Homo sapiens: one gene and its partners. The protein of the gene in region 4 interacts with the protein of the main gene of each other region in a pairwise test. Each region holds a gene or a part of one and is shown on either strand. Other genes may lie near its edges. The genes, in order: SLC34A2, SLC10A2, TM4SF18 and TEX264.

What was found.
Region 1: the proteins of TEX264 (region 4) and SLC34A2 interact in binary tests that used the Homo sapiens proteins (3 or more experiments, as listed by UniProt).
Region 2: the proteins of TEX264 (region 4) and SLC10A2 interact in binary tests that used the Homo sapiens proteins (3 or more experiments, as listed by UniProt).
Region 3: the proteins of TEX264 (region 4) and TM4SF18 interact in binary tests that used the Homo sapiens proteins (3 or more experiments, as listed by UniProt).

Annotation. Positions count from the first base shown.
Region 1 is NC_000004.12:25,657,977-25,666,418, forward strand, and holds part of SLC34A2 (sodium-dependent phosphate transport protein 2B), read left to right. Parts: intron 1-4,521; 5' UTR 4,522-4,524; coding exon 4,525-4,636; intron 4,637-4,728; coding exon 4,729-4,866; intron 4,867-6,225; coding exon 6,226-6,354; intron 6,355-8,151; coding exon 8,152-8,295; intron 8,296-8,442. UniProt on the Homo sapiens protein: Involved in actively transporting phosphate into cells via Na(+) cotransport.
Region 2 is NC_000013.11:103,062,555-103,070,954, reverse strand, and holds the start of SLC10A2 (ileal sodium/bile acid cotransporter), read left to right. Parts: upstream 1-4,537; 5' UTR 4,538-4,705; coding exon 4,706-5,082; intron 5,083-8,400. UniProt on the Homo sapiens protein: Plays a critical role in the sodium-dependent reabsorption of bile acids from the lumen of the small intestine. Transports various bile acids, unconjugated or conjugated, such as cholate and taurocholate.
Region 3 is NC_000003.12:149,317,033-149,324,113, forward strand, and holds the end of TM4SF18 (transmembrane 4 L6 family member 18), read right to left. Parts: intron 5,405-7,081; coding exon 5,224-5,404; intron 4,461-5,223; coding exon 4,446-4,460; 3' UTR 1,466-4,445; downstream 1-1,465.
Region 4 is NC_000003.12:51,694,555-51,702,996, forward strand, and holds part of TEX264 (testis-expressed protein 264), read left to right. Parts: intron 1-4,851; coding exon 4,852-5,020; intron 5,021-8,442. UniProt on the Homo sapiens protein: Major reticulophagy (also called ER-phagy) receptor that acts independently of other candidate reticulophagy receptors to remodel subdomains of the endoplasmic reticulum into autophagosomes upon nutrient stress, which then fuse with lysosomes for endoplasmic reticulum turnover.

The DNA of each region.
Region 1 (8,442 bases), on a different chromosome or scaffold from region 4:
ACAGAGTCATTCTTTCAAAGTACAAGAAAGTTTTCCTGGGCATCCCGAGAACACTGGCCTGCATGAGGTTGAAATTATCTCTGCAGTGTTGTGGTGCCTATGTGATTTGAAGCCATTAACCTCTCTGTGGCTCAGTTTTTCCCTCTATAGAATGAGGATACTGTTCATTTTAAAGGAGACTCTAAGTTTACATAGATACATGAAATGCTGTGAGTAAATTTGTGCACCAATTTGCAAGTGCCAGGCACAAAGTCTTTAATAAACACTACTTGGCTACCATGTGCCCAGCACTGTCCTATGTGCTGGGGATACAATGGCCATACTCTAGTCCCTGTGCTTGTGAAGGCTGCCATTCTGATGGGAGACTGTGTGTCCATGTTCTGGTTCCTCACAGGACCACTGCCCTGGGCTTCCTCCTCTCCCCATTTCTTCAGATGGCCTTGACTGCTGCTCTGGGCACAAGGGGCCCAGGAACAGGTCTTGGTTGGAGAAGCCCAAACAATGCGAATGTAGGGGTTGGGTGACTGCCAGGTACCCTACATTCCCCTGCTTCCCAAGTCTGAGCCAAGTCAAGAAAGTTCCTCTCCTGGGTCTTCAAGAAAGAATAAGAGCTCTTTCTGGCAGTGGGTGCCCATGTGGTGCAGGAAGTGGAGCCAAGAGGGTGAGGCACACAGGCAACTCGGTTATAGAGGCCAGTGTGGCAGCGGGGGAGCCCCTCCCTGGGCTTTAGTAAAAAGCTTCCAAATGATGACTTCTCCCTTCCTCTGCTGCTTCTGGCAGGTGGCAAGAATGTGCTGGAGTGAGGCCTTGGGAAGGCTGGGAGAGAACAAGGCAGTGGTTGCGCCAGGGCTATGGGGGTAGGAGAAAGGCTTAGAGGGGCTCAGAGCTCCAGGGTACATTCTCTGCCTGCACCATTTAATACCCACCCCCACCCACCCACCCCACCCCCACCACCCTCCCCTCCTGCTCATCCATTGCAACATTCTTGGGCGGGCATTTCCAGCATCTGAATGATCATGTGGGAGTGACCTGCAGACATGCCAATCTAGCCAGCTATCCGAAAACACTCAGAGCCCTCAATGTGCCTAGACCTAAGGCCCCTGGGTGCCCTGGTGCTTTGAGGGCTGGAGAATTTCTCCTCCCTTTGCCCCTGGCTGTGAGATCTGTGGAAAAGCTTCTGGCTTTGGAGCCAGCAGTCTTGGGTTCATATCCTGACACCAGCTCCAGGTAGTTGGAGGCAAGCTTCTTTGTTTCTCTGTGCCTCAGTTTCTTTGTCTGTACACTGAGAAGAAAAACTCCTTCCTTGGTAGATTTAATGAGGTCACAAACTGTATAGGACACTCCTCTGCCACAAAACAAACATTAGCATCTTTCTCTCACAGGCTTTGGATTCATTTATTCAAATATTAACTGAGATCCACTACCATGCTGAGCATTGGAGATGAAGAGCTTATAGTCTAGGGTACACACAGTGGAAATGAGGCCATTTACTGTTCATGACACAGTGCATTTCCACGTAATAAACACTCTTGTTTATTGTTCATGACACAGTGCATTTCCACATTGTGTCATGAACAATAAACAAGAGTTCCGAGTGTTTACTCTGCCAGGCACCATGCTCTAGCCTCACCTACACTTATTAACCAATTAGTCCTCATAACAGCTCAGTAAGCAAGATGGTATTGTCCCCATTTTTACAATGATGAAGCTGAAGCTCAGAGTGGCTCAGGGTTGCATATAGTGAGGGGCAGGCCTCTGCAGAGCCAGCCCTCCCTCACTGTGATTCGCCTCTCTCCAGGTATCACTGAGCCATCTTACCTTTGTGAGCTTAGAGGTTGAGTTGCATCTTTTAAAATAATTTTCTTCTAAAATTTAAAAAATCACCCACAGTCTCACCACTCCCTTTTACCTCCAGAGAACATTTCTGGATCTTGTCTGCCTTGTTGAGATGATGCTGTGAATGGGAAAAAGAAGTGCTTTAGATGTGAAGTTTATCTAAAGCATTTCCCTATGGTTTTACTGATTCAGTATAACCTCTTTAATGGCATGCTCTTACAATGCATGGACATACCATAGTTAGAAGGAGTAATTTCTCTTTTTTCATTTTTTCACACTGTAAATGATAGAGCAGCAAATATCTTTTTGGTCTACATCACATTCATTCTATCATAAATATGCCCGGCAGGGCTCAAGACCTTAAAGATGAAGTGATGGACAAGACAAAGTCCACTTTTTGGTAGGGTTTGCAGTCTGGTAAGCAGGAAATAGGTTGACGAAGAAAGGAGTCAGGTGGACTCAGGCTCTAAGAAGCCCTCTTGGAAGAGGTGATCAGAGTAAGTTAGGTATTTCTGAATTTCTGAGAGGAAATATTCCTAGCTTCCTGATTCCTAGAAGTGAAATGACTGGGTCACAGACGTGTGATGAACATAAGGCACTTTGGACAGTTTGCTAACTTTTCCAGAGCTTCTAGCAGTGTTCAACTCATAACATCTTCTCCAGCATAGCATAATGAACTTAAATTCTTTTTGCTACTTTGATAGTTGTCACTGTTTTAGTTTGAATATATGGGATTGCTTCTGTTTTTTTGAGACGGAGTTTCACTCTTTTTGCCCAGGCTGGGGTGCAATGATGTGATCTCAGCTCACTGCAACCTCCACCTCCCAGATTCAAGTGATTCTCCTGCCTCAGCCTCCCGAGTAGCTGGAATTACAGGTGCATGCCACCACGCCTGGCTAATTTTGTATTTTTAGTAGAGACGGGGTTTCACCATGTTGTCCAGGCTGGTCTCTAACTCCTGACCTCAGATGATCCACCTGCCTCGGCTTCCCAAAGTGTTGGGTTTACAGGCATGAGCCACTGTGCCCGGCCTGGATTGCTTCTTTTTTAATAGGCATTTTAGCCATTTGTTCCTTTTCTGTGAATTGCCTTTCTCCAATCTTTTGGACTGCTTTGTCTAATGGACAAGGACTAATTGTCTAATGTCAAAGAACAAGGACTGCAAGGACTGGAATGTGAGGTGTGTCAAGTACCATGTAACTGAGAAAGGCCTTGTGAAGAAAATAGATTGTAAGAAGGTCTTTTCTGAAGGCTGAAAAGAATGTGGTTCTAACAAAGGATGATTAATCCAGACAGCATGACATAGTAATAATTGCTGCTATTTATTGGATGCCTCCTCAATGCCAGTCACTTTCTAGACTTTTAATTTCACTATTAGTCTCATAACCCTGCAAGAACTGTTCCATTTTATAGATGGAGAAACTGACACTTTATGCTCAGAGGCATAAAGGGACTTGCCTAAATACACACTCATTAATAGGTGGCACTGCTGGATTTTAAAACCAGGTCCATCACTCTTTTCACAGAAGGCCTGGGTGGTAGGTAAAACACGCAGAAGGTATATGAACACCTGCATATACTTATATATTTTGAGACAGAGTTTTGCTCTGTATCCCCCAGGCTGGAATACAGTGGCATGATCTCAGTTCACTACAACCTCCGCCTCCCAGGTTCAAGCAATTCTCATGCCTCAGCCTCCTAAGTAGCTGGGATTACAGGCACCCACCACCATCCCCTGCTAATTTTTGTATTTTTAGTAGAGACAGGGTTTTGACACGTTGCCCAGGCTGGTCTCGAACTTCTGACCTCAGGTGACCCACCCACCTTGGCCTCCTAAGGTGTTGGAGTTACAGGCCTGAGCCACCTCGCCTGGCCCCTGCATATATATTCACATACACACTAAGTTGTATAAATCTGTTAAATTCCACTGGATAAGGTTTTGCATAGATTTGCAGTGCACTTGTCTTGATATAAGAAGTAGATGGGGTTCCATTGAAGGGTTGTGAGGATTTGGCATGCTATGAGACAACAAAGATGAATGGGCTTGCACCCTGCCTTTTTCTTTTTTTTTTTTTTTGAGAAGGAGTTTCACTTTTGTCACCCAGGCTGGAGTGCAATGGCACAATCTCAGCTCACTGCAACCTCTGCCTCCCAGGTTCAAGCGATTCTCCTGTCTCAGCCTCCCGAGTAGCTGGGACTATAGGCGTGTGCCACCACGCCGGCTAATTTTTATATTTTTAGTAGAGATGGGGTTTCACCATGTTGTCAAGGCTGGTCTCAAACTCCTGACCTCAGGTGATCCACCTGTCTTGGCCTCCCAAAGTGCTGGGATTACAGGCGTGAGCCACGGTGCCCGTTGCACCCTGCTTTTGACTGAAGGAGAGAGTCAAGACAAAAACAAGTTTACGAGATTAAAGGTGGTACATGCAGCTAACTCAACACTGTACGAGGTAGTTTGCTTTAGCGACTGGGTGAGTGTTTGAAGGGGAACCACAGAGGAAATATGGTGCTTAATATGCCACACTTAGGGGGCATAAGTGTGAAATCTTTCCCTTCCTTTTACTGCCGCCTCCGGCCGAAACCCCCACCCAGTTGATGCTTTGCAACCAATGGTTCTTCCTCTTATAGCATCTCGGTGTGCCTCCTTTCCATGACTGCTGCTTTAAGCTGTTTTCTCATCCACAGACCATGGCTCCCTGGCCTGAATTGGGAGATGCCCAGCCCAACCCCGATAAGTACCTCGAAGGGGCCGCAGGTCAGCAGCCCACTGCCCCTGATAAAAGCAAAGAGACCAACAAAAGTAAGTGTCGCTCGTTTGTCTGCAGATCGGCCTTTGTGAGGACCCCAGGAGACTCAGGTCTGATTCCTCATTACCCCTTTTGCTTGTTTCAGCAGATAACACTGAGGCACCTGTAACCAAGATTGAACTTCTGCCGTCCTACTCCACGGCTACACTGATAGATGAGCCCACTGAGGTGGATGACCCCTGGAACCTACCCACTCTTCAGGACTCGGGGATCAAGTGGTCAGGTAAAAGTGAGGCCAGCTGAGACATTCAGGAGGGAAACTTCCTGTGGTTCACGGTGTCATCATCCTCCTGTCCCTCCCCCTTTTCATTGTTCTGATTCCCTTGAAGCAAGGGTCCTGGCTAGGGATGTCACCCTCTCATCTTTTTTTTTTTAGACGGAGTCTTGCTCTGTCACCCAGGCTGGAGTGCAGTGGTGCGATATTGGCTCACTGCAAGCTCTGCCCCGTGGGTTCAAGCAGTTATCCTGCCTCAGCCTCCTGAGTAGCTGGGATTACAGGCTAATTTTTGTATTTTTAATAGAGATGGGGTTTCACCATGTTGGCCAGGCTGGTCTCGAACTCCTGACCTCGTGATCCACCCTCCTCGACCTTCCAAAGTGCTGAGATTACAGGCATGAGCCACAGCACCCGGCCACCCTCCCATCTTTGAGGTAGAGTCAAAGCATGTTGGAGTAATTGGGGGTCATTCATTCAACAAATGTGCCAGGCACTGTGGTTATAGCAAAGATGGACATTGTCTGGCTCCTTATAATTCGCTGTGGGTGATGAGGTTCCAGGTACTGCTTTGGAGATGCTGTGGATACAGTGATGAACAGAAAAGGCCCCTCTTCTCAGAGAGCTTTCAGAGGGGTCCCCTCACCAAAATGTGGGCATATTTCTAGTAAAAGAAAATATGCAGCCAGACAGCTGGATGCAAGCAATCACTGTTTCATTTCCAAATGTATGTAGGGCAGAAGGTCTGTCTGTGAACTAGACAGCAAGGAGGAAAAAGGAGATTGGGGTGTGGGGTGGGGAGGAGAGGTAGGAAGGAAAGAGCTGGGAGGGGGAAGATGAGAACCATTTTAAAAGCCAGTGGAGTAAACAGCACTTAAGGATGTAGCATCCCAGGATGTATGATGCCCCAAGCCCTCCATAAATTGAGGCTGATTGCTGCTGTGCAGCTGCATTCTAGAAAATACTCTGTGCTGTTTGGAACGTGACAGCCATTATCTCCGACCCTGCACTTAGCAGGTGGCTAGTGCTGTCAACTGCCTCACTCAGTGACACTGTGGCTCAGCTGAGCATGGAGCCTGGTTTTTCTGTCGCAGACCACATTGAACCCCTCCTCCCAAACGCAAATCCTTTAGAGGCACTTTACCAGGGGTTTCAGCTAAATGGACCACAGCGGTAACTGCTTTGAAAGCTGCAGCGATGGCTGCTTCCCATCTGTAAGGCTGGCTAGACATAAGAACTTAACGGCTGCCAGGCTGGGAAGGGAGGGGAGGTCGGGGGAGCTCTGAGCTCATTGCCAAACTTCTCAGGGTTTCCAACACTAAAAGTTTCATGCCTTTCTCTCTCTCCCCCCATCCCACCCCCCTGCAGAGAGAGACACCAAAGGGAAGATTCTCTGTTTCTTCCAAGGGATTGGGAGATTGATTTTACTTCTCGGATTTCTCTACTTTTTCGTGTGCTCCCTGGATATTCTTAGTAGCGCCTTCCAGCTGGTTGGAGGTAAGAATGAAAGGGTGAGAGGTCTGCGGGTGAGGGGCATTATCTTGAAATGTGGTTCCGAGAGTAAAACTCAGCAAGCCCTCTCCAGCTGCAGCCTCCTGGAGTGTTTTAGGACTGGAACCGACCTCAGATCATTTATGAAGTCTATGCTTTCCGTTATAGAAGAGAAAACTGAGGCCTATACAAAGGGCTATGACTTGGCCCAGGTGGCTTAGGCCAGGAGCTGGGGCTAGACTATTCCAAGCTATCCGCCAGTTGAGTTTGTCCACAAACCCCAGGCAGGAAGTTGTCTGACATACAGACTTAGCTGAGGAATTCCTATATCCTCCACACCAGAGAGAATTCTGGAATGAGAAAGAGTGCCCTTTCAAATATGGGCCCTTGCTGGGGGAAGGACAGGGCCCCTTCTCTGGGCTGGAGGAATCTGCATCCATTGTACTTACCTTCACAGCCCTTAGGGCTGCGTGTGCCCATGCAGTGTGAGAACCCAGGAGTGAAGTCACCATGTGCTTGGTTCCCTTTGTACCTCAATGGTGATGTCAGAAACAAACAAGCAGCACTCCGTCTACTGGGTGCAGGCATTTTCGGGGGCCCTCTATCAAACATTCTTTCCCAGAGCCCTCCCATTTACGGAGAGATCATGAACCAGCCCTGAGACTCACAGCCTGTGATTAGCAGAGTAAGATTCAGTCTCAGATCTGGGTGACACAAAGGACCATGGATTTCTGCAACCCTTGGTGCCTTTCTTGGGAACCCATCTGTGTGACTTGGGAGAGTTGGGGAGGTGGGCATTCATGGGAGAGCATGAGGGGCAAACACTTCCTGGACATTGCTTTTTTTTTTTTTTTTTTTTGAGACAGAGTTTCACTCTTGTTGCCCGGGCTGGAGTGCATTGGCGTGATCTCAGCTCACCGCGACCTCCACCTCCCGGCTTCAAGCGATTCTTCTGCCTCAGCCTCCTGAGTAGCTGGGATTACAGGCATGCACCACCATGCCTGGCTAATTTTTGTATTTTTAGTAGAGACGGGGTTTCTCCGTGTTGGTCAGGCTGGTCTGCAACTACTGACCTCAGTTGTTCCGCCCGTCCTCCGCCTCCCGAAGTGCTGGGATTACAGGTGTGAGCCACCGTGCCTGGCCTCCTGAACATTGCTTCTGGGCTCCCTGGTCCATGGGAGCATCAGCTAGGGGCTTTGCTGTCTGGTTATCTCAGACAAATCACCTGCATCCTCTGGGCTTCCACCTTCTTTATACAATGGACTTGGGAATGCATTGATGGTCTCAGGTACACTCTTGAGAATAACTCTCCCAGCATTCAATTACAGGCTGGTGCTAGGGCTAAGGGTGGATAGAGAGATCTACTCTTGGAGGATAAATCTGAATTGGGTATACACCCCAGAGACATCCAGGAGGCTCATTGGAACCCACTGGTCCCAGTATGGAGTTGAGGCTGGGTTCCTGAGCACAGAAGGGCTTGCTGACTGAGGAGTGTTTGAAGAGTGGGAGGATGCAGGGTGAAGGAACAAAAGTAACCAGGGGCTCACAGTGGGTCGGGAACCAGGGCAGAGAGACAGAGACAGGAGGCACGTGTGGGCAGCTAGTAGATTTCCTGCCTTATCGGGGCAGCACTGGGAAGAGGCATGGGGAAGCAAGATTCCTTGGGTGCCTGCAGCGATGGAGGCTGGACTCTGCAACCCACAGCCAGCTGGCCTTGGATGGAGACTTCTGTTTACTCAGTGCCCACCTAATCCCCCTCGATCACGTTGTGATTGTTTTTGTTTGTTTGTTTGTTTTTCCCAGGAAAAATGGCAGGACAGTTCTTCAGCAACAGCTCTATTATGTCCAACCCTTTGTTGGGGCTGGTGATCGGGGTGCTGGTGACCGTCTTGGTGCAGAGCTCCAGCACCTCAACGTCCATCGTTGTCAGCATGGTGTCCTCTTCATGTGAGTCGGGGCACCCATGAGCCCACCTGCATTCCAGACACTCTCCTGTCTATCTGAGGGTGGGAAGGACGGGGGAGGAATTCACTCTGAATATGTCCAGGCCTTGCCACCATTGTCTTGGTATCTTGCCCCAGCTACAATGTGTTT
Region 2 (8,400 bases), on a different chromosome or scaffold from region 4:
TACCACAATATATTTACCTATTCTACCCTTGATGGACATTTGGATAGATTCCAGTTTGACGCTATTATGAATGGAGTCACTGTGAACATTCTAGTTCATGTCTCTTGGGGAACTTAATTTATAGATTTCTTTAGATTGAAACCTAGGACTGGAATGGCTGGGTCGGAGGGCATATGGACATTTAGCTATAATCATTTTCCAAAGTGGTGGGACCATCCTACAGATGTTTAATAAGGATTCACATTCATTCATAAAAACCTGAATAGTCTGCACAGTATTTTCAAAAGAAGCAGATCTAGAACCCAGTTCTGATTCCAAGCCTAGTGCATTTTCCATCCAGTAGATTCCAGGTTCTTCTATCCTACTTTCTTCTCCTCAATACTATGCTGCCTTTTCCCTCTAAAGACTCAAGAATGAATAGCTAGTCATTCACGGGGCATTCTCCCCAAGGTACTTGTTGCCTTAAAGAGGGTCAGTGGTAACTCCAAAGAGCTCTAATTGTGGGACTTTCAGGTTTCATAAAAGATCAATCTGTAGAAAGGAACTAGAGAGGAGAGAGAGGGAGATAACTTCAGTCACAGGAAAGTACTTAACAGAGTCAATCAAATCCAAGAGGGCCATTGATCTGAATAGAGCCATTTGTGATGAAACACAATAGAAGATAGGAAGCTCATCTTTTATCATGTGAACCTCAGGGCAAACATGCTAGAAAGCTATTGAACCCTGGCCTCCTCAAATTGATACACAGGAACAAAAGGGAAGCCTCAGATGTCAAATTCTCATGTCTGCGCCCAGGCGGCCAGAAGCAGGAACCGGCTCCTGGTTTCTTGAGGGTGGCCTGCATGTGAGCCCAGGGTGTGACAAAATGTAGCAGAAAAGACTGAGAAGGATGACGACGAAAATGAAGCTCCAGCCTCCTGACTACCCCTCTCAGGTGTGCATCTGTTTCCAATTCCGTATTACAATTAAAGAGAATGATTTTTTATTTTTTTTAATTTTATTATTATTTTACTTTAAGTTTTAGGGTACATGTGCACAATGTGCAGGTTAGTTACATATGTATACATGTGCCATGCTGGTGTGCTGCACCCATTAACTCGTCATTTAGCATTAGGTATATCTCCTAAAGCTATCCCTCCCCCCTCCCCCCACCCCACAACAGTCCCCAGAGTGTGATGTTCCCCTTCCTGTGTCCATGTGATCTCATTGTTCAATTCCCACCTATGAGTGAGAATATGCGGTGTTTGGTTTTTTGTTCTTGCGATAGTTTACTGAGAATGATGATTTCCAATTTCATCCACGTCCCTACAAAGGACATGAACTCATCATTTTGTATGGCTGCATAGTATTCCATGGTGTATATGTGCCACATTTTCTTAATCCAGTCTATCATTGTTGGACATTTGGGCTGGTTCCAAGTCTTTGCTATTGTGAATAGTGCTGCCATAAACTTACGTGTGTATGTGTCTTTATAGCAGCATGATTTATAGTCCTTTGGGTATATACCCAGTAAAATGGGATGGCTGGGTCAAATGGTATTTCTAGTTCTAGATCCCTGAGGAATCGCCACACTGACTTCCACAATGGTTGAACTAGTTTACAGTCCCACCAACAGTGTAAAAGTGTTCCTATTTCTCCACATCCTCTCCAGCACCTGTTGTTTCCTGAGAATGATTTTTATATATTTAGATACTTTCAGTGTCTGGATTTGAATATAGCTGAAGTTAAGGGTACTAATTAATTGTGAATCATTCCGATACTTGAATATAAAACCTCTCAAGCCTAATGTGCAAATTTATGTAAAAACAATGTGAAATTAGAAATGCATTGGCACTTTTTTTTAAGCAGAACTGTAGCACTCTGTCTAGTCAAACAGACTGCTCATTTGCAAGTTGTCTATATGCAAAGCATTCTGCCCCTGGGAGCCTAAAATCTCCTTAGAAAGTCATCTGAAATTTGAGAAGAGCTTTGTTCTGAACCTGCTTTCTGCTCCCTTCACTTTTCTTCCCTGCTTCCAGCACTGTGAGCAAAAAGCCTAAGTATGGATCACACCTGGCCAACCCAGAAGCAGCCATGGCCCAAAACAGGAGGCCTGCCCTGGGAAACCCATTTGAGTTCAAAGGAGGGTGTCTAAATATGCTTGTCTTGAGCCCTGTGCATTGGGCCTTGCACTGCAGCCTTCCAACTTTAAGAGAAATTTCAGAATCCAAATCCTTCCCGCCTGCAGGGCTCAAATTTTCCTTTGCAGATCAGACCTGGTGAAGAGGCTATTTGCCGTTCAATCCTAGGCTAGCTTTCTGCCTTTCACCTAATGTTTGAGGTTAAGAGAAATCAGAAAAGAGAGACCGTAAACTGATCACCACTGCATGGGCATCTGCCTCACCCACCTTTGGGAGTTGGGGGAAGAGCCAGCCACAGGTGCTCAGGTGCAGGTGCCCAGGTGTGAGCGGCTAGGTGCAGATGCTCAGGTGTGGCAGCAGGGAGTGCACTTGGCTCATCTGCCCTGGGGAGGGCCAGCTCCCGACAGAAGTAGGCCAGAGGTCAGTCCCAGGAAATGCTTGGAGCAGCCAGCAGGGTAGGGCCAAGTCATGATACACCTAGGAGTGGGAGGGGAGGCCTCTTTGGATATTACCTGGTTTATCATTTAGCTGTTGGGGTGGGGAAGGAGGTGGGAAAGACAGAAGGCTCTCCCAGGAATTGGCAGGCAGCCAGGTCAGGGACAATGGCAGCCCCCACTTGTGCTAGAAAGGCAGGCAGGACGTGACCACTCAGATAGCCACATCAACAAGTACAAATCACGGTTGCCCTGGAAGGAAATGGCTCAGGTTTTTCCCAGTAGCTCAATGCCTAGGCACCCCCACCTGTGGTTTGGGCATTTCACTCTATTAGCTCTTCTGCTCAGTGGCCCATTCTGCTAGCCACAGCTCACATTTACTCCAGTTATGAAAAAGGTTAATTTTCCCATATTGAGTTTCTCTGCAAAAGCTGCTTTCAGTTGTGACCGGTAAGTTCCGTTGTCACCAATATGGGTACAACTGTTGTCACTCTGCTATTCTGAAGCCATGATACTAAAAGTGTGACCCCAGATCAGTGTCATCGCCATCAACTACAAGCTTGCTAGAAAGAAAACTCTCCCTAGACTTCCAGAATCAGAATTTGCATTTTAACAAGGCCCCCAGGGGAATCCTGTTCACACTGAGTTTTGAGAAGCTCTGTTCTAAGATATTACTCCAATCCCCAGCAAGCCAAACCGACCACTTTCTTCACATAATCAGAACGCTCGGTTCCAGTATTTCCAGATACCAGCCATAGGAAAACACGTTGTTCTCTCATTTCCCTTTAACCTTATCTAAAGCACTCAATTTCCTCAACCCTTAAGTCGTCATCTGTAAAATGGGAGTGCTAATCCTACTTAATTTAAGATGATTAAGTTGAATAATAAATTAGAATTTGTCCTACAAATTGTGAATCATGATCGGAATATTCAATTTTATTATTACTCTGTGTCCTAACTCAATAACTGGGTTATAAACTCCTGAAAACAGGACAATCTCTTCTCTACCTCTTTCTTTATCTTCCCTGTATACTGAAATACAGCGTTCTGCCCAGCATGAGGTCGACTATTTGACATTTACAAAAATCTCTCTTGGAATCCCCCTGCCAAAAAAAAAAAAATCGAATTTCAATTTATGACTCCAAGCACAAAGAGATCCTGTCACTTTGACCTAATTCTCTGAGGTTCATCCCTCTAAATAATTGTATTGTCTCCATCTATAAAGTACTCTGTTACTATGACAACGCACACATAATTGCATGTGTAAGTAGTTGAGGGTGGCTGTGCAAGTCAGACTCCTTTCCACCAGGAAACACAGAAAACATTCTATCTTCCCAAATGTTACTCTCTCAGATTTGCACCAAGACCCTAGAAGTTTCTTAAATTTCCATATACTTTATGGACACTACAAAGCAATTCCAGGAAACACTGATACAGTAGCAAAACTACTGGGAGTGGAAATTGGATGGAGATCTGGGTCCCAGTTCAGAGTCTGACACCTGATTTGCAACATAATTAGGCACAGGGCACTCAACTATTCAGGGCCCTAAACCCTTCTATTGAAAGGGAAATGGGAGAACAATATGTGTTCCTATGGCTCAGTCCCTATAAGATTCTGTACTATTCAGAGTTGATTTTAAGTGTCACTTAACTGAAATTATCCAACAAACCTTCATGGCATGAAACATTAACACAGCTCTTTTTATATGGCATGGTTCCTATGGCTCAATCCCTATAAGATTCTGTACTATTCAGAGTTGATTTTAAAAGTCACTTAACTGAAATTATCCAACAAACCCTCGAGGACATTAAACATTAACGTGGCTCTTTTTATATGGCATGGTTCATTATCATGCCAATAAATGATTAATCGTAACTCTCTGTCTTGACCAATAATTTTGCTGGACTTTTGTGATTCACAACGTGCTCTGTGTTGTAATGCTACCTCTTGAAACTGACATCCTAGCTTTATTGTTTTTTATTACTTCCCTAAGGTGGCTTTCAAAAGAGACACCAAGTGACATATTTTTAGGAGGGGTTTAAAAGTTTGATGGGGTAGAAGTAAACGTTGCTTAACTCAACCAGCAGCAGAGCCAGGGCCCAGGGACCAGCGCTTCTGTGGACTTGGCCTTTCCAGCAGCAGACCCAGCAATGAATGATCCGAACAGCTGTGTGGACAATGCAACAGTTTGCTCTGGTGCATCCTGTGTGGTACCTGAGAGCAATTTCAATAACATCCTAAGTGTGGTCCTAAGTACGGTGCTGACCATCCTGTTGGCCTTGGTGATGTTCTCCATGGGATGCAACGTGGAAATCAAGAAATTTCTAGGGCACATAAAGCGGCCGTGGGGCATTTGTGTTGGCTTCCTCTGTCAGTTTGGAATCATGCCCCTCACAGGATTCATCCTGTCGGTGGCCTTTGACATCCTCCCGCTCCAGGCCGTAGTGGTGCTCATTATAGGATGCTGCCCTGGAGGAACTGCCTCCAATATCTTGGCCTATTGGGTCGATGGCGACATGGACCTGAGGTAAGATTATCTATACCTCTAACTACTGCAATCACCTTGGAGTAATCCTTCCAGAAGCCTATGGCATTCTGAATGTCCAACTGATTTGCCACGCATCTAAAGTATGACTAAGGAATCAAACAGGAGAGAATAAATGCATTCCCGTGCCTTCTAGCACAGCTGCTTAGCTATTGGAATTGGGGGATTTATATTTTGTGTTTGTGTTTTTAAATCTAACTCAGTTAACAGGGAGTTGCATAATTGCTGTTGATCTCTAGGAAAAGATTCAAAGCTTTTTTAAAAAAGTAATCTTTTCCAAACCACAAGCTGCAGCTGAGGAGGTTTATCCTGTTGGTAGCAGGAAAAAAAAAGCAAAATACACTTTCTTTGTAATGATGAGGAGCTCTGGGTGCAATCATAAAATAAAACTGTTTGTCAAACATTAGAACCTGTAGTGAGACAGTGGTCAACTCCATCAAATATAGCCAGTTCTTTGGGCAAACATTTTCCTGGTATAAAACCTAAGGAAGAATTTGTAAATTTGCTTCACCTCTACTGGCATTAAAAGTGGGGGAAAAAGCCTATAGCAGCTTTTTTAAAATTATGCTTACCTTACTACAAAATAAACAGAAAACGTTTTCTCCACTTCCTACAGAGTAATCTAAATTGCAATGTTTGCCCATTTCATCCCGTGCCAGTCTGAACTAGCACTGGAAAAAAAAACTAATAGAAATAAGATGAAGCATTAATGTGACTAGATTGAGAAATTTAATGCTAAAAGTTGAATAGACAAATGTCTTTTTCCTTAGCTCACAATTCCTCATTTCCCTTGAAAGGTATGCATTTCCTTCTGCAAACCATCCAGGTGCTAATGCAACGTGTGCTTATTAAATACTGTACAGTAGGCAATTAGCTCTGTTCATCCCCAGCTACTATTGGCAGAGGAGAGAAGCACAAAGTGTAGAATTGTAAACACTGGATTGATAGAGTACCCAGTGATCAATTAGGAACCTGCTGTCTCATTTCAACTGGTGCTGGTTTCTCCAGAAGCTTTAGAAAAGTCATACAAACCCTATACCTTCATATGGTTTAGTCTTTCACATAAGAAAACACATGATATCCACCTTGCAATTGCTTTTTTTTTTTTAAGGAAAGCCCTATAAAACAACATAGGATGGCAAGTGCTATTCAGGTTTAGTTAATCTGTGAACCACGATATAGCAATAAGGTCTTTTTAGACCTCAATTTAGTTTGACCTGGACACAGGTACACAGAAGTGAGAATTCTAAATGCCAGCACCTGTTACACTGAGAAAAGTGAACTACTTGGAACATTGGGCCTTGACCCCCAATAAACAGCTTTCTCATAATATTTGTAACTTTTAGTGCAGAGGAGTTTTGTACCTCAATGTAATACCACATATGGAACCCTTTTATAAGACAGAAAAAAAACGTGTGTGGTACTGGACTATTAGGTTGTTGAAATGAATTCTCTTCTGTGAGCTAAAAACAGTAAGATCTAACCTAAAAGCTCCAAGTTACATTTTTCTGTGGTTTTAAGGAAATCTTATTTCTCTTGAAACAGGAGATGATTATGTAATCCTGTCCACCTAGCATAACAATTCCTATAAATTATTTTTTTTAATAAGAACTAAAAGTAGAATATGAAGCTTTGGTAGAAACCTCCAGCTAAATCCGTGCAAATGAATCCTTCCAGCAAGTCAAAATAAGCCCTGTAACGCAACATGGAGCAACCTCACCTATCCAGAGCTCAACAAGACCCAATAAAAGACACTGCACACCCAAAATAAATTTCACTTAATCTCATAAATGCTCCTCATGCGGGACCGACTTAACTATTTTTATTTTAAAGTTCTGTTGTGCTATTTCCCAGAAATAAGAAGCGGGGAAGGAAGCAGAGTGTTAGGAAGGGCAAAAGAGAAGATCAAATGCCTGCAAAGCAAAGCAGACACTGACAACACACAGCCATCTCTCTATCATTTATCCTCTATCACTTATTCTCTCTATCACATATTCTCTCTTAATTATCAATTATTCTCTCTGGTTTCTGTAGCACTTATTCCAGTCTCTGGTCTCTGTATCACTTACTCTTCTACAAACACAAGAAGATGTCACGGTATTTTAGAACAACCGATAATCATGTTTATCATGATCGGTCTTAATCATTGAGAAGAGGTTAAATTATACTGCTATGTAAGATGATGACATTATGCATTGTGTGTTAGGAAAACAATATTCCAATATTTCTTTAATACAAATTAATTAAAAGGGTAAAACCTGAGCTATTGCGTAACAGTTTTCCAAAACTTTTTATTCTTCTGGATTAAGAACTGGATAACTAAAGTCTCCTGATAATTTACTTAGATACAATCCTATCTAACATTTATATTTCCAGTTGTGTACACTTAGAATTTTACCTTCTCCATCTCCACTTGAACTCCAGCAATGGCATGAAGACATGACTGTTTATGTTAACAGGCAGCTACACTAATTGAGCTAATGCCACACAATGCCAGCAAAACCATTCCACCTGGTTTTAACTCTCTTGGTTATGGTTCTTGGGAGAAGAAACCAAAACATTTCTCTCTCACTCTGTCATCTCTTATGAACCTGGAAAGCCACCGCATTTTGCAATCTCTAGTGACTTTGAAAAACAAAAAAAAAATAGACAATAGTCCTTGATCATTGGAATCCAGCAAGTACTATTTCAGCTCCTTCTCTGACCACTCCCAGCCTGGAGTTTGTGAATCTGATTGGTGCACATATATTTTCACCTAAGTTGCAGCTGTGCCATGGACATCACATGCACAAAAAGCATCAGGGAGAAGAGATGGTGACTTTTCAGGTGAATCTGCTTGTGGCCAAAACCCATAGTTGAGAGGACACAGAAACATCCTATCTCCTTTTTGTCTGCTCTCTCCCCAGACACAGGCAAATATCCGGTGTCTTCATCCTTCTTAATGGCCTCAGCGACACCATGCAAGGACTTCTCATTTCCTTTCTTTGGCTTCCTCTTTGGGGAATCCATTCTTATGCATCCTTCTCCCAGTTGCCCCCAGTTCCTTCCCTGCCACCTACTTTCTACATTCCTTTTTATTATTTTACAGACTTTCCTACCACATCCTTTGTTCTTTGGGCAAATGCTGTTAGATTTTTCAGCTTCCAGTGCAGCATTCATTGATATTTTAGATATTCAAGAAATCTCACCCTGTAGCTTACCACAAATTCACAGCAATCAATCCTTCCTATGTCAACCCCATAAATGTCCTTCTCTTCTCTACTCTGGGAGACCTAACCCAAAACCATTCGGCTTTTTCCT
Region 3 (7,081 bases), about 98 Mb from region 4:
GTAACCCTATGACCTTTCTCCATCCCCTTCCCTTTCTGTTGTTTTTGTGGCATTTCCATGTCCCCACCATCCCAAATCTGCTCCAACTGCACCTGGGTTCTGATTTAAGTCAACCAGGCACTAAGAACTTTACATGTTTGAACTCAATTAATCTTCACAACAACCCTATTATTATTCCTGTTTTACAGACTCAGAAACTGTTGCACACAGAGGTTAAGTAAACTTGACCAAAGTCACACACCTAATAAGGCAGAGCCCAGATTTGAACCCAAGCAACTTGACTCCAAAGTACATCTTTATTCCACTGTGCTATAGGCCACTTATAAATCATATCCATGGCCAAATACTGTTTTCTGATATGTATATCAATAAAAGTATAAAATTACTCTCTCTATATATTCATTTAATCCTCACGGCAACCCTAAATCAAGCAAACAACCAAACAGAATATTGAAGACCTGAACAAAATTAACAACTTGACCTAATTTTAGTATGCATATAGAATTCCGCCCTCAATATTTGGAGAAAACATATACTTTTACAGCACATAGAACATTTACAAAAAGTAATCATAAAAGAAATCTTAAAAACTTTCAAATTATCGGAATCACACAGACCACTTTCTACGATCATAATACAATTGAGTTCAAATCATAAAAATATAACATAAACTCATATGCTTGGAAAGTTTTTGTTTGTTTGTTTGTTTGTTTGTTTGTTTGTTTGTTTTGAGATGGAGTCTCACACTGTCATCCGGGCTGGAGTGCAGTGGCACAATCTTGGCTCACTGCAACCTCCGCCTCCAGGGTTCAAGCGATTCTCCCGCCTCAGCCTCCCGAGTAGCTGGGATTACAGGCACCCACTACCATGCCCGGCTAATTTTTTTGTATTTTTGGTAGAGACAAGGTTTCACTATGTTGGCCAGGCTGGTCTCGAACTCCTGACCTTGTGATCTGCCCTCCTCGGCTTCCCAAAGTGCTAGGATTACAGGCATGAGCCACTGCGCCCAGCCATATACTTGGAAATTTTAAAGCACATTAAAAATCTCATGGATCAAAAAATAAATCATAAAGAAAACTAGAAAATATTTATAACCAAACAAGGAAAATGCAACATTTTAAAACTTGTGAGATTCAGCCAAAGTGGTAATTAAAGAATGTCTAGTCTTAAGTGCTTATTTTAAGAAAAAAAGAAAGTTAGAAAATCAATAAGCTAGGTATTCTATTTAAGAAGTTAGGAAAATAACAATGAGATAGAAGCAAGGAGAACAGTAGATAAATAATAAGTGCAGAAATGCATAAAACATAAATCATTCTCAATCAGGATTAGCTCATAATACTCTCAGAATTAAAAAGTGGAAAGATTATTTCTGGAAAGGGTAAGAGAAGGCCAGTCATATACATACCTATATATATTTTCTATTTTAACTCCTTAAATGAATTTTACAGAAAGAATTAGAGGACCATTGCTTTTTAAATGACATTTATTTTTTCTAATAATTCAAGTACATAACACATTTTCAAAGGGAAATTTGAAAATACTGAACAATGTAAAGAAAAGAGATAGAACTTATAGTCCTATCATTAGGAGATAATTATTAAGTATTAACTTGTGCGTACTTATGCTTTCTTTTTTCAGCCTATAGCATCTGGTCTCCCATCCAAGTAATAACCTGGATCAATCCTGCTTAAGTTTCCAATATTAGGCATTTTCAGGGTGTTGTGACCACAGATGATGTAACTATTAACTTTTAAATATTTTTCTGGTCTTTACATATCTCAAGGTTTATACATGTCTACATGTAATTATATGGTTACTTAATTAAAAATTTGGGCTCAAACTGCATACATATATTTGGTTTTTGAGTTTTTTTTCCTTTTTACTTTGAATTCACGAGGATATAAAACACATATTCAGCTTTTTTTGTATTCAGCTTTTTTTTACTTAAAATTGCATGATTAGCATATACTCTTCAAATATAGAATATTTGGTGGCTGTGTTAAAATTTAATTTTCCTGATAGAGGTATCATGCTGCATTTGGCTGTACCCCTGATGTGTCCAATGCTGTGGTGGAGTCATTCAGCAAACATCTATTAACAGTCCATTCAACGTACGGTGCCATGCTGAATCTAAACAAGAGATAGACAGTCTGAAAGTATATAACAAACTGATGAAGTGGACCTTCCAGAAGTCTGTTTACAAGAGGGCTGAGGAGACTTTGAGAGAATTTTTAACAAGATGGTCCTAGATATGACTAGCTTATGGACTTGATAGAGAAATCCTGGGCTGTCAGAGGGGAGAGGTCACTCTGAGTACAACATGGTGTCTGTAGCTTGGGTTTGCCTCTTGGTCCAAGTCCTTCAGACCTCATATTTAAGTTCTTTGGAAAGTAGAGTGTTATTGAATGAAGCTCTGTAAAACTCTGGAGCCTAAGCATCTTTGTCTTAGCATCCCTCCAACCCAACATCTAGAAAAGGGAGACTTCATTTGGATCGTTTTAGTTGCAATAAACAGAGCTGCACTGATTTAGTCGGGGGTTTACTGAAATGATCAGCACAGTGACAAAGAAGAAAGACTATCTAGGAATCCAAGAACAGAAACCAGGCCTAGGGTACACTGTTCATTGTGGGCAAAGGCAGTTTTAGGAGCTTTTGGAGTAGAAGTTCATGTATCTTCCTTTTAATATGATACCATTATTAACATGAACCAGATACTCTCTGAATGTTGGCTTCCTTCTTCATCCTTTAATCATTTTTTGATGGTAATGGTCCGGTTGCTTCATTCTTGGCTTCCTAGTTCAAATTCTTATGCTTGAATAACCACCAGTCTTGTTTGGACAGTGTTTTACTCCAGGCTAAGTCAGAGGCCATTAGCAAGACAATAGGCTGCCCATGACTCTGGGGCCTGCCCCAGTTCAGTCAGCTGGGCCCAGAGCATGAAGGTCATGCGGTGTATAACATGGCTTGCTTTCAAGATGCTTGTTTCAGCAAAGGCTGTGAACAAGGCTTAAAGGGGGCTGTTGGCACAGCAGGCATCAAGGAGAAAGATATTCTCTTCCGTATCCCCCCAGCCTACTCCCTGGCTTTGGCACAGAGCAGGTGTTGACAGACCATTGTTGACAGTGTCCATGGAGGAGACAAATGGGGAAATGGCAGAAGTGTTGAGGCCCAGTGCACCTGTGATGGAAGCAGTGCTCAGCAGGGTAACTACAGGAAGCAGAAAACCTGGTATGAGCATTCAACACTGAGTGCCTACTGGCTTCACTGTGTGCTGGGTCCTATGCATGGTGGGAAATATATAAGATGTGGCTACTGTCCCCGAGGAAGACATGGCATGTATAGGTGGAAAATTTGTAAGTGTTCTACTTTTTAATTACTTTAAAAATAAATATAGGTACTGGTAACTCCCCCTGACACAGGTATTGACTGGTCAGTGGTCATTTTCTCTTGCCCATTGAGCATGTTCCCTAGCTGCTCACTTATTTTAAGGCTACCTCTTCTAGTCCATCACACTCACCCTCAGGAGTCAGAAAGGAAGAGCAAGAGTTTAGATTGTATAAGTTTATATAAAACTCTTTTTGGCTCATCTATATCACTACTTTCCTCATTGAATGTTGATGGAAGTGTCATTTCATGATGTTTGCAAATAATGTTGAGGAATGTGGAAAGAGCATATGCCTTAAAGTTTGGAAAAATAAAAAAATTTTAATAGTGAAAATATGAGTTTAGAAAATATTTATAGTAAAACATATTCAATAAAGAAATCTTGGAAAATATAGAAAAGTGGGAAGAAGGGTCATCAATGCCCCAAACCAAGCATAATTGGCATTTTGTTATATTTCCTTTTAGATTTAGTTTTCATCCTAAACTTTGACTATTAGTGTTTCATTTGCTTTAAATAGTTATATAGTAAACATGAATTTGTAACCTGCTTTTTGATGTAGCATTATTCATAATTTTAAAAACATCATTTGTAATGACTGTAATTTTACAACCATGTAGTACTCTTTATTTTTTATTTAATTTTTTTTTTAATATCAGAAAACATTTACAGTATGTACCACTCTTTACTTAATCCTTCCTCTGAGTTTAGAATTTTGGGGTGTTTCCAATTTTCCAGAATATTAAATAATGTTGCAATATACATATTTGCATAAAGGTTTCTCTCATATTCTTATTTACTTCCCTAGTACAGATTCTTGGAAATGGATTTGTTTGATCAAAGGGCAGAAGTATTTCTGAAGTTTCTGATGCATATTACTTAAAAAACATACTAAATGGAAGGGTGGTATACTTGCATGTGCAGTGAGGACTGCAAATTTTTTACAAATAAACACCAAATGCAGAAAGCACCATCATTTCAATATTGCCCTCAAGTCTACACAGTTGATATAATATTTAGATAGATGGCCATGTCTTGATAATGGAAAACATTTTGTCCTTATTCAAATGATTCCAGGCTATAGGAAAAAAGGAAAAACAAAGTGATTAAAGTTATAAACTTGGCTTGATTAGTAATCCGTAATCCAGATAGCAACTTAAACTTATATTTCATATTCAAAATATGATAGAACAGAAAAAACATCTCTTAGAAATTGCTAGGAAAGGTATTACACATTCTGTTGTTAAACAAAATACAAGCCATCTAAATTCATAATTTTTCTTCACTCTGGACTTCTTGATAGCAGTTTCAACCATAACTAAATTAACATTAGTATTTTAGCAGACGAAGTAGAAGTAGTTTCAATGGGATAAATACATATTTCCCTTCTTCTTCAAAAGCACTCCTATGCACTCGAGATAAAGGTTCATTAGTTGAATGTAGCAGCATTCAGAAGAGAAGTTATTTCAATGAGATAAGGTTCTGAGCCTTTGCTTAACTTATGAACAGGGAAATTCTTGATAAATGGTAAAATTTCATCATGCTTTGAGTTATCTCTATGTAGAACACTAAAACTTTGCTCATTCAAAACACTTATGAAGCCTTACCATACAACAAGAAATGCAGATTTTACAATTACTGAGTTGATTCAACCCTTATAGATAAGCCAAGACACATTGGGATATCAGAAAAAATTGAGATATTAGAGCTTGAATAAAGATGAGGGCAATAGAAATGGGGGGAAAGTGATGGAATTCTAGAGTCTTTTCAAAAAGCCTCATTGAATCCTGGGAAGTGGGGGAAATATGGATGAGCTACAGGTGCCCATGAGAATCTGTTACCTGGAAGATCACTGAATAGCTTCCACACAGTATCTTGGATAGTTGCATGACTACTCTGATGAGGCAGATGATCACTTGAAGCCCACTGAGGGTTATGAGAATGGAAAATAAAATGATGTTCCACTCCACAACATGTGCAGGTTCCAGGCACTGAATCCATATGCTAGAATCTGTAAGGAAACTGAGAGAGACCCATGGCCAAATCTACATACTGGGTCCAAGGAAGAAAGCTACAAGCATTTGTATGTTTGAGAAATTACTGTATAACTAAAATATATAGTTATTAGATATGAATTAATACATTTTAAAAACCATTCAGATACACATATTGGACATATCTTATGCATAGCACTGAGCTAGATACTTAGTGTGTTATAAATGTTGTGCTTGCCTTATCACCCCCATGGCCTCTTTGTTTTTCTTTCTCCCTCTTCCATTTCTTTCCTACTTCCTTCTTTTTTACTCTTTCCCCACCTTTATTTATTTTCTACTTTCTAATGCTCCAGGAAATAGAGGCACTCTGAGAATTTCTTTATATTGTTAATGGCTCTTGTCTCCAATGGGAAAGAGCACAGAATATGAAATCAGAATTCCTGGATTTGGGTCTGCAGGATGTTGAGCAAAGAACTTTACCCCTCTGGCCTCCAGACTTTTTTTTTTTTTTTTGAGACGGAGTCTTGCTCTGTCGCCCAGGCTGGAGTGCAGTGGCGCATCTTCGCTCACTGCAAGCTCCGCCTCCCTGGTTCACGCCATTCTCCTGCCTCAGCCTCCCAAGTAGCTACAGGCACCCGCCACCACGCCCGGCTAATTTTTTGTATTTTTTTAGTAGAGACGGGGTTTCACCGTGTGAGCCAGGATGGTCTCGATCTCCTGACCTCATGATCTGCCTGCCTCACCCTCCCAAAGTGCTGGGATTACAGGCATGAGCCACCGCGCCTGGCCCTCCAGACTCTTATCTTGATAATGGGGTTAAAATATCTAACCCCAGAGTTATTGTGAATATTTGGTAAGAATGTGTATACAAACAGTTTGGAACCTGTAAAGTACAATACAGATGTGGCTTTCTGTTAAATTTCCCTAAACCTATCTCATACCCCCATTTACCCCTATCTCCATCTCAGCTGCCAGGGAAATGAGTCCCTCCAGATCCCTCCTCTAGACTGTTCCTAGTACATGCTCTGCACAGATCATCTAGCAATTTAAAACAAGATGACTTGCAATGTTGCAGGAAGTCGGGGACCCCAAATGGTGGGACTGGCTGGAGCCGCGGCAGAGAAACATGAATTGTGAAGATTTCATGGACATTTATCAGTTCCCAAATAATACTTTTATAATTTCTTATGCCTGTTTTTACTCTAATCTCTTAATCCTGTTATCTTCATAAGTTGAGGATGTACACCACCTCAGGACCACTGTGATAATTGTGTTAACTGTACAAATTGATTGTAAAACATGTGGTTTGAACAATATGAAATCAGTGCACATTGAAAAAGAGCAGAATAACAGAGATTTTTAGGGAACAAGGGAAGACAACCATAAGGTCTGACTGCCTGTGGGGTTGGGCAAAAAGAGCCATATTTTTCTTCTTGCAGAGAGCCTATAAATGGATATGCAAGTAGGAGAGACCTGAGGGAGAGTCATGTTTGCTAAGAAAGGTCATGGTATATGGCACCATGTAAAAATCTTCAGAATGAAGGCAGCTACAGTCACAGAAGCAGCTCTGCCATGTAGGCCTAGATGCACATGTAAGACCTCAGATGGACATGGGCCTTGAACAATAAAGCTAATCATGGAGAGTTGAGAAGAAAATTTAACTTCCCCCAGTGAATGGTACAGACATTCCCTCATTTTACTCCAT
Region 4 (8,442 bases):
GTGCATTCAGGGTGGTATGACTGTAGACCCTTTATTTCATACTTGGGCAAATTGAGGGCCAGAGGGAAGCTACCGATTTGTGTAGCCAAGCCAATGCCCTAGGCTCCTGCCTGGGGTGCTCTCTGCCACTTCCTGCTTCCTCTTTTCCCTCCCTGGCCATCCTGTCTTACTCCCTGTCTCCTTTGCCTGCCATTTTCAGAGCTTTGGGCTCTGCTGGTGTGAGGGGAGAGTAGAGAGAGGGGAAGGTGCTCACCAGCCCTTCTGCAGGCTCTCCCTGCTGCTGTGGCAAGGCCCCAGAGCACCAACAGACAGGTCTGGCTTCTGGGCCAGAAGCTTTGGGGCAGCCTGGTGGGGGTGAGAGGAAAGTTTCCGGGCAGAATAATAACGTGCTACCTTCTAGCTGCAGCCTCTTGCTATACCTCCCCAAAGCATGCACGTGCCATGAAGACCAGCTGCCTGAGGGGCCTCCAGGGTTTGAGTCCCCACTTGCAGGGACTGCTGTGTGCAGGCAGGTGCATGTTGGTGTCTGTAATTAAAAATGAGCATGCATCACTTCACCCAGTGAGGAGACGCCACTACCTCGGGTGGGATGCAACAGCTGCTTGCTGGCTGTGCAGCTGCCTGGGTATCCAGCCTGGCACAGAAGGATAGATAGGACTGGGTAGCTCAGGGTGAACAGTAAGGCAAGGCCCAGGGCCCCTCAGCCAGACCTCATCCCTTGCTGGGCCTAGAGCTTATGTAGGAGATGTGACCCGTCCTTGGCCCACACATTGCCTCCTTCTTTTGGGCATTTGCAGCCACCTAGTTCTAAGCAAACCTCCAGCCTCTGGGTAGCCTGGGAGTGGGACCCATCATCAGCCTTCGTCCTGGGCCTGACCTCTTCTGTCTTCTATTTGCTCCCAATCCCTAGCTGAAGCCAGGGCACAGGGTGATGTCCTGAATACAAAGCACTAAATGAGGATAGTTCAGGTCCAGGTCCTCTCTCTTACCTCTTTTCTTCCTCTCCCATAATTCAGAAAGACCTGCTGGGGAGGCACTGTGGGTCCCGTGGGGGAAAGCTTGGCCTGGTGTATCAGTCTTGCCCTGTTGTGGGAGCCCTGAGCTGAATGGGGTAAATGCCTGCACCCTGCCCAGGAGATGAACTCAGGCTGAAGTGAGGTGGGAGTGTGTGGTGTGTCCCCAAGGTAGCTGACGCAGTGGCACTGTGGCAGCCTGTGTGAGGTGGGTGAGCTGCTCCTTCCCTTTTTTGCCAACACTCCTGAGTGAGTAAGCAGGTGTTGGTGCAGGGTGGGGTGGTGGTGGGGAAGTGCTGGTGTCTGGGGTCTCTTAGAAATTCCTGCATCATGGGTGGTGTCCCAAGTCCCCATCTTGTTTCTGCATGTGGAAGACCCAGGTGGGAGGGAAGGCCCGGAGGTGTGTCTGAGGGACTGGAACTCTGAATCCAGTTTCTGGCAGACCCTGGGGGCACCTTGGCATGGTTCACTGACTTTTGCCTGTTAGGTGGAGAGGAATGTGAACATCTGCAACTCTCCCACCTTGGAAAGAGGCTTTATAGTCTCCTTGGGTCTGTGTGTGGGAGTGAGCTGCTCTGGGCTGTGGGTTTGTTAGATGGCCAGTGGTGTCAGTGGCAGAGCACGTTCTCATGTCCTGGCAATGCTTCCACACACTGCTGGCTGTCTGGGCTGTGGAAGGGGATGTGCCAGGGCTAGGAGGACCCCAGGCCCACCCAGGCTCTTCACCAGTGGGACCAGCCCAGTGTGACCTTGAGCTAGTGTCCTTGGCCACTGGCAGTCTGCTCTCCAAGGGCTCCCTGGGGCTAACTGAGGGAGAGGCAGCTGGCCTCGCCTTCCTCCAATGATTTTCCAATATTTACTGGCTCATTGACATATTGCCCGGGCCATGGCTCCTACTGTGCAGCAAGGACCTGAGAGCCAGCCCATGGTCACCCTGTCTTCCCTCCGAGGTTGCACCTGGCTGGGAGGGAAAGGGCTTGTCCTCTCTGCCTGATCACTCAGGGACAGAGCATATAGCTTGTCCTGCCCCTCACCTTCCATCCCCAGCCCCCACTAGAGTCATTCTTGCTCAGTGGGCAGAGCATGCAAGGGAGAGCAGTCTCCCAGGAAGGGCCAGGGGGCAACTACAAGCCCCTTCTCTGCCTGTGGGCCTGGCTTAGAAGTTTGCTCCTTTGCCTTCTTCCTGTCCCTTCTCTGCCCAAGTCTGAATTTTGGTAGGACCTGGTGCATGTGCTATAATGATTTGGGGCTGAACAGTCAATGGCATTTTAATTAGCTCCATGCCTCCCTCCAGTAGGGAGGACCAGGGCCCCCAGGTAACAGCAGGTAGGACCAGGCTAGTTTTGGGCCTGAGGCTGCCCCTCCAGGGGTCTGGGAGCAGGCTCTGGGACCTGGTGCTCCCTGTGTGAGATGCTGTGAGGAGGGAGAGCTGGGCAGAGAAGGAAGGGCTGTGTCGCAGGGCCACAGTTTTCTCTCCATCCTCTGTCTCCCTTGATCCTCTGTTCTCCCTGATGGCTTTGAGATGAAGGCGACGGCAAGGATGGAGGATGCAGTTTCCATGGCAACGGGGCTGTCCACAGCCAGGCAACTTCAGAGCCGGGCTCTCCGGAGGAAGCAGATGCGCAGAACAGCCGCAGAGCTGCCTCCCGCCTGCCAACGAGGGGGCTGGCAGAACAGGTGGCACAGGGTGGCAGCCTGGTGCTGCCCAGCCTAGGGGAGAGGGTGGAAAGAGCAGTACTCCCTCTTATTATCTTGTTATGGCCAAGTTCCTCCAGAAGGGAAGCTAGGGAGGTGGCTTGAGTGTTGAGAGGGGTTGGGCTAGGGTCCCCATTGTCCCTGGAATCTCTGGGTGGACACAGGCTCTGTCCTCTGGGATCTTCCCCCAAAAGCCAAATGTCTGCTGCTCTTGTGATGGCCACTCAGCTACTACCCTTTGGGTCCTTTGTCCAGAGTGTGAGGATGTTGGTGAAGGCCATGCCCTGACTAGATTCAGGGATCCTTTTCTTTCATCTAGCTACTGGGGAAGGACCTGGACCTTCTTCAGGGGCCTCCCTGCCCCTGGCCTCAGTGACCTGGACCAGTTTGCTGAGTTGGGTTCAGGTTTGGCAGATGCCTGCCTCTAAGTGCTGGCATTGGAGGGGCCCCAGAGCCTGACAGCTCCTGCTTCCTGACACTGTGATCTTGTTTAGCCTCCTCCTGGAGACCAAGGCTGGAGTGGGTATGTGAGTGGGTAGAGAAGCAAAGACAGCCATCTGTGTGTTTAGAAATGGGACGTGTCAGGGGCATGGACTCTTGAGATGGAGGAAGCCCCGAGGGCACCCAGGTTGGCAAAGAAGATTTGACTCCAACTATTAAAAAATAATGACTTTCCTTCACCGACCTTGGAAGCATCAGGGCTAGGGTGTTCTACTTTGCTGTTGAGCACATGGAGACTTAGGATGGAAGGCTTTGCCTGGATCACCCATGGAGTCAGAGGCTGAGCCACAGCCAGACCTGGGACAGGCCATCCACCTCCCGCGTGGCCTCCTAGATGCACCCTCCCTTCAGCTGGCTGCTGAGGGTCCTAGCTAGGTAAACCTTTCAGGCTCACTCCTCTTTCCCTTTATCATCCGTGGGCTTGCTTTTAACCCTTCTTTGCTAGCTTGCTTTAGTTGAAGGAGGTTCCTCAACCCTAGGGTTGGCCAGGCAGGTGGACAAGTGGAGTCTTGGAGTGGCTTCTCCTTGCCAGGCAATAAGTCTCTCATTACTGCTAAGTGGAAGGCTCATTTCAGAGCTCATGGTGAGAGCGGGGCGAATGCTATAAATAGTCGTGTTGTGAAGATTGGCGGGTGAGCAGTGACAGGGCAGGGGCCTTGCAGTCATCATAGTGGGTATTTGTGCTCCTTCGCAGGAAAGGTGGCGGGGCAGGCTCTGAGTAAGAGGCAACTTGACCCCTGTTCTGGCTGTCCCTGCCTGCCTCAGGGTGGCTCTGGCATGTCTGTGCCCCTCCATACTCATTGGGGGATGGGGAGCACTGGATTCTGTGTCTAGGCAGAGGGAGGTGGAGTGCCTTTTGGAACTTGGGGCCCAAAAGGTGGTACATCAGCCCACTGGGTAATGTCCTGTGCTAGATCTACTTGTCCTACCTGACCTTCCAGTCCAGGGTCTCCCTCTTCCCCATCAGCTAAAACCTGAGTTTACATGTGAGGAGGTATGGGAACCATACCTGATAGTCTCAGAGGTTGACATAGCTCTAAACTAGCAGGGGAATGAATGGGAGTGGAAGTGGTGTTTAGCTGGCCTTGATCCTTGTTCAGGGTCTATAGTAGCATGTCTGCAAGAGCAGGGGCTGGAGGCCTAAGGACTGGGGGTGCTGGTCTTCTGATATCTGTGGGTCAGTCAGCGTTGTCCAGGGTGGAGAGGAGGTCAGGGCCAGGGGGTCCTGGGATGGAAAGTCTGGTAGGTGAGACCTTGGCTTAGGCACATGGGGTCCCTATCCTGGGGTGGTCCAGGGGTGCCAAGCTTCATGGCTCTGTGAGACCAGTGCCTTCTGGAACAGCTTTTTGGTCTCAGATGTACACATAGGAGAGCAGTGCCAGGCTCCTGGGTTCTTTTACCACCTGCCCTAGGGTGTCGTCCTGGGTCTTCAGACTATTATTGCACTCTGGACTATGGGGCCCTGCTGTTAGGGTGATCTATGTGTGCCTCCCTCAGCAGGGCTTTGGAACTTGGAAGAGGTTGAGAGGCAGAGCCAGCCCCTGGGACAGAATAGGTAATAGACAGTTCTGGGGGTCACCCAGGGACAAGTGAGTCAGGGGCCCTGTAGGGCTCATTCTACCTTTTGCCACTCTCTGACTAGGAGCGGAAGCTGTGTGCCTATCCTCGGCTGGAGATCTACCAGGAAGACCAGATCCATTTCATGTGCCCACTGGCACGGCAGGGAGACTTCTATGTGCCTGAGATGAAGGAGACAGAGTGGAAATGGCGGGGGCTTGTGGAGGCCATTGACACCCAGGTGGATGGCACAGGTACAGAAGGTGGGGTATGAGGATGGGGCCCTCCTGGAGCTCCTCTCTTCTGGACTCCAGGGGCTTGGTTGAGGAGGCTCCTCCCTCTCTGGGTTGGCACTGTGGGTGTCAGGCTATGCTTGGCAGAGGGAGGAAGGAGACCCACCTACCTGAGGACCCACATGTGGAGTTGCCTGTTCCCAGACACATGGATCTACATAGATGTGGATTCACACACATTACCTCCTGGCAACACAGATACAAAGACCCTGCCTGGATTCCCTCCAGATGCAGCAGGAGTACCCTTGGAAACAAAGATCACAGACAGCTCGATGTTCATGGGAGGGGGCTGAGGCTGCTCAGGAAAGGAGTCCCTTGGGTGGGGCTCAGCAGGAAGTAAGATTGGCATAGATCTGGAAGGTAAGGAGGGGAGCAAAGTGTTCTCTTGTCCCTCAGTACGGGCCCCACCCAGAGCCAGCTGCTTTCTCCCTGCCAGGGAACAACCAGGGAGCATGCAGAGGGGAGCCAGGAGATCAGTCACCTGTGCCTTTCTCCAGGGCCAGCCCACACTCCTGCTGGCAGCCTCAAGGCCCCAGGTCCAGGCTGGAAGGCTGCTTGCCTGCCCACCCCTCTGCAATGATCTGTGACCCCGGGCTGTCTCAGGCACAAGGGGGTCTGCTGGGTTACATCCCAGATGGTCCCAGGGGGCCTTATCCTTGGCCAACCTGGTGGAGTTTGTGACTTCTAGGAGTGGTACAGGGCTGTGGGGAGAGGAACTGTCCCTCCTCTCCTCCTTCTTTAGCAGATGCTCTGCCCATCCAGTCTTCAACAGCCAAGGTCACCCTAGGGAGACGTGTCAGCTAGGGCTGGGTAGGAGGGTATTGGGAGCAGTCTCTACTCCCTAGGGGCCTGTGTCCAACACAGTTAACTTCATCTGCCACTTAATTACCTCCATGGGGTACAGCTCCCTTCTGCCTGGTAGTGCCCGGCAGACACTCTTCAGTGCCCCTACTGTGGGCACAGGACATGGCACAAGGTCAGCAGGCCCAGGCAGCCTCCAGGGCAGGAAGACAGAGTGCCTTCACTTTACTGTGACCTCCCTCTGCTGCCTGCCTCCCCCTCCTTGACCCACCCACCCAGCTTCCTTCCCTCCCAAACACTGCCTGTCAGGGTCATTGAAGGACTGCTTGGCACCCACTACAGCTGGCTGTAGTGGCAGCTCCCACATTCCCCAGCTCCTCAGCCTGTTTTCCTCCCCTCCAGCCCGCCCACCCACTCCCTGGTGTTGGGGCCAAGGGGTCTGCCCACCTCTCACAGGGCCTGTCCTGACACCCCAGCGGGACTCGGTGTTTGCCCACCAGGTGCATGCCACTGACACAGCAGTTGGTGGTGGGTGCATGCAGGATGTCTGACTGCCCAAGGCTTGGCCTGTCCCTGCCCGCCTCCCTGCTGTGGCCCTAGCTTAGGCCGGGAGGTGAAAGGGGGTGATTAGCTGCCTTGTGCCTGTTATTACATTGATGTATTATTTAGCTTCAGAGAGGCGATGAATATTTGATCGTCTTGCACTGGCTGTGGGCAGAGCGAGAGGGAGGGATTTGGGTGAAGGGGGTGGGCTTCAAGTCCCCTGCCCCAGTAGTCGTGGGGATTTAGGTAGGGCCCTGCCTTGCCTGGTATCTTCTGCCCAGGGATGCAGGCATGGGACTCTGGGACCTCCTCCTGTGTAGATCTTGGTGGGGGTATAGGGATGCTACTTCCCCGTATTGCATTCCTTTTTTTTTTTTCTTCTGCGGCAAGGTCTGGCTCTATCGCCCAGGCTGGAGTGGTGCAGTGGCAAGATCTCGGCTCACTGTAACCTTTCCCTCCCAGGCTTAAGCTGTCCTCCCACCTCAGCCTCCTGAGTAGCTGTGACAAGAGGCGTGTACCACCATGCTTGGCTAGTTTTTGTATTTTTTATAGAGATGGTGTTTCGCCATATTGCCCAGGCTGGCCTTGAACTTGTTAGCTCAAGTGATCCTGCCTCAGCCTCCCAAAGTGTTGGGATTCTAGGGATGAGCCACCATGCCCAGCTGGATTCCTTTTTTTTGTTTGTTTGTTTTTAAAGACAGTTTTCCTTTTTTGCCCAGGCTGGAGTGAAATGGCATGATCTTGGCTCACTGCAACCTCCACCTCGTGGGTTCAAGCGATTCTCCTGCCTCAGCTTCCTGAGTAGCTGGGATTACAGGTGCCTGCCACCATGCCCGGCTAATTTTTGTATTTTTAGTAGAGATGGGGTTTTGCCATGTTGGCCAGGCTGGTCTGGAACTCCTGACCTCATGTGATCCACCTGCCTCAGCTTCCCAAAGTGCTGGGATTACAGGCGTGAGCCACCGTGCCTGGCCTCCAGCTGAATTCCTTTGCTTGAAGTGTATATATGTCTCCAGGGGCTGTCTTCATTTCAGCAGGCTGTCCTGGCCTGAAGGAGGCACCCCTAGGCTCCTTCCTCTGAACATTCCTAGCCTAGGAGCTGGGTGGTAGGAGGTAGCATGCTGGGAAGCAGGCACATTCCTATACCTGGGGTCCCAAGAGAGCCATTGGGTGGGTGGGCAGACAGAACATACAGTTTAATAGGGCCAGGGAGAAACTGTCTCCCTCCTTTGCTCTTTTCAGGCCTGCGGTCCCTGGGGCACTGATCATTATTTAAGGAGCAGTGAGGGCCTGGCATCCTGTCCCCTGGTCAGAAGAAACTACCCAAAACTTAAAGCTCCCCCAGCTCCCTGACCACCTCATTCACAGGCTTCTGTCCTGGGAGCCACACCTGGGGCCTCAGCAAGAGGAGGGCCCTGGGCCAGCAGCCTGGGCTTCTAGGGCTCACCTCACCTCTGCCAGTAGCGCCCAGAGGGCATATTCTGGGGGCTGAGTGGGTGGTGGGGGTAGGGAGAGACCCCAAATTCCCCCCTCTCCTAATTCTCCCACCCCCAACCTAGGCCCCATTTGAGGCTCAAGGAAAGCCCCAGGCTGAGTCCAGGCGCCAAGCAGACCCCAGCTGCACCTGGCTTGGCTCCAACACCATGGAGACAGTGGCTGGGGAAGCTGGCTAACCCCTCACCTTCTGTGATGTTTGACAGCTGACCCTCTCCCCATCATACAGGAAGGGTAGCAGATCCACTTTCTCCCAGTCTGGATTCCTGCACACAGCGAGCCTGAGCCATGTGTTCCTCCTTGCCACCCCAGCCTGCATTCAGTGCCTCTGATCCAGGGAGATGAACCCAGGGGTTGCTCCTGGACAGGGCAGATGAAGGGGCTGCTTGCTTGGAGGATGTATTGGGGGTGGAAGGAGCAGGTTAGAAGGAGTTTGGGCCATCAACCTGGCTCAGCACTGGTTTGGGGCACCCCAACCACCAGCAGAGTGCTCTCATCATCCCCTTTTGCTATCTTGTGGCTCAGGAAGCACCAGTCATTGGGGG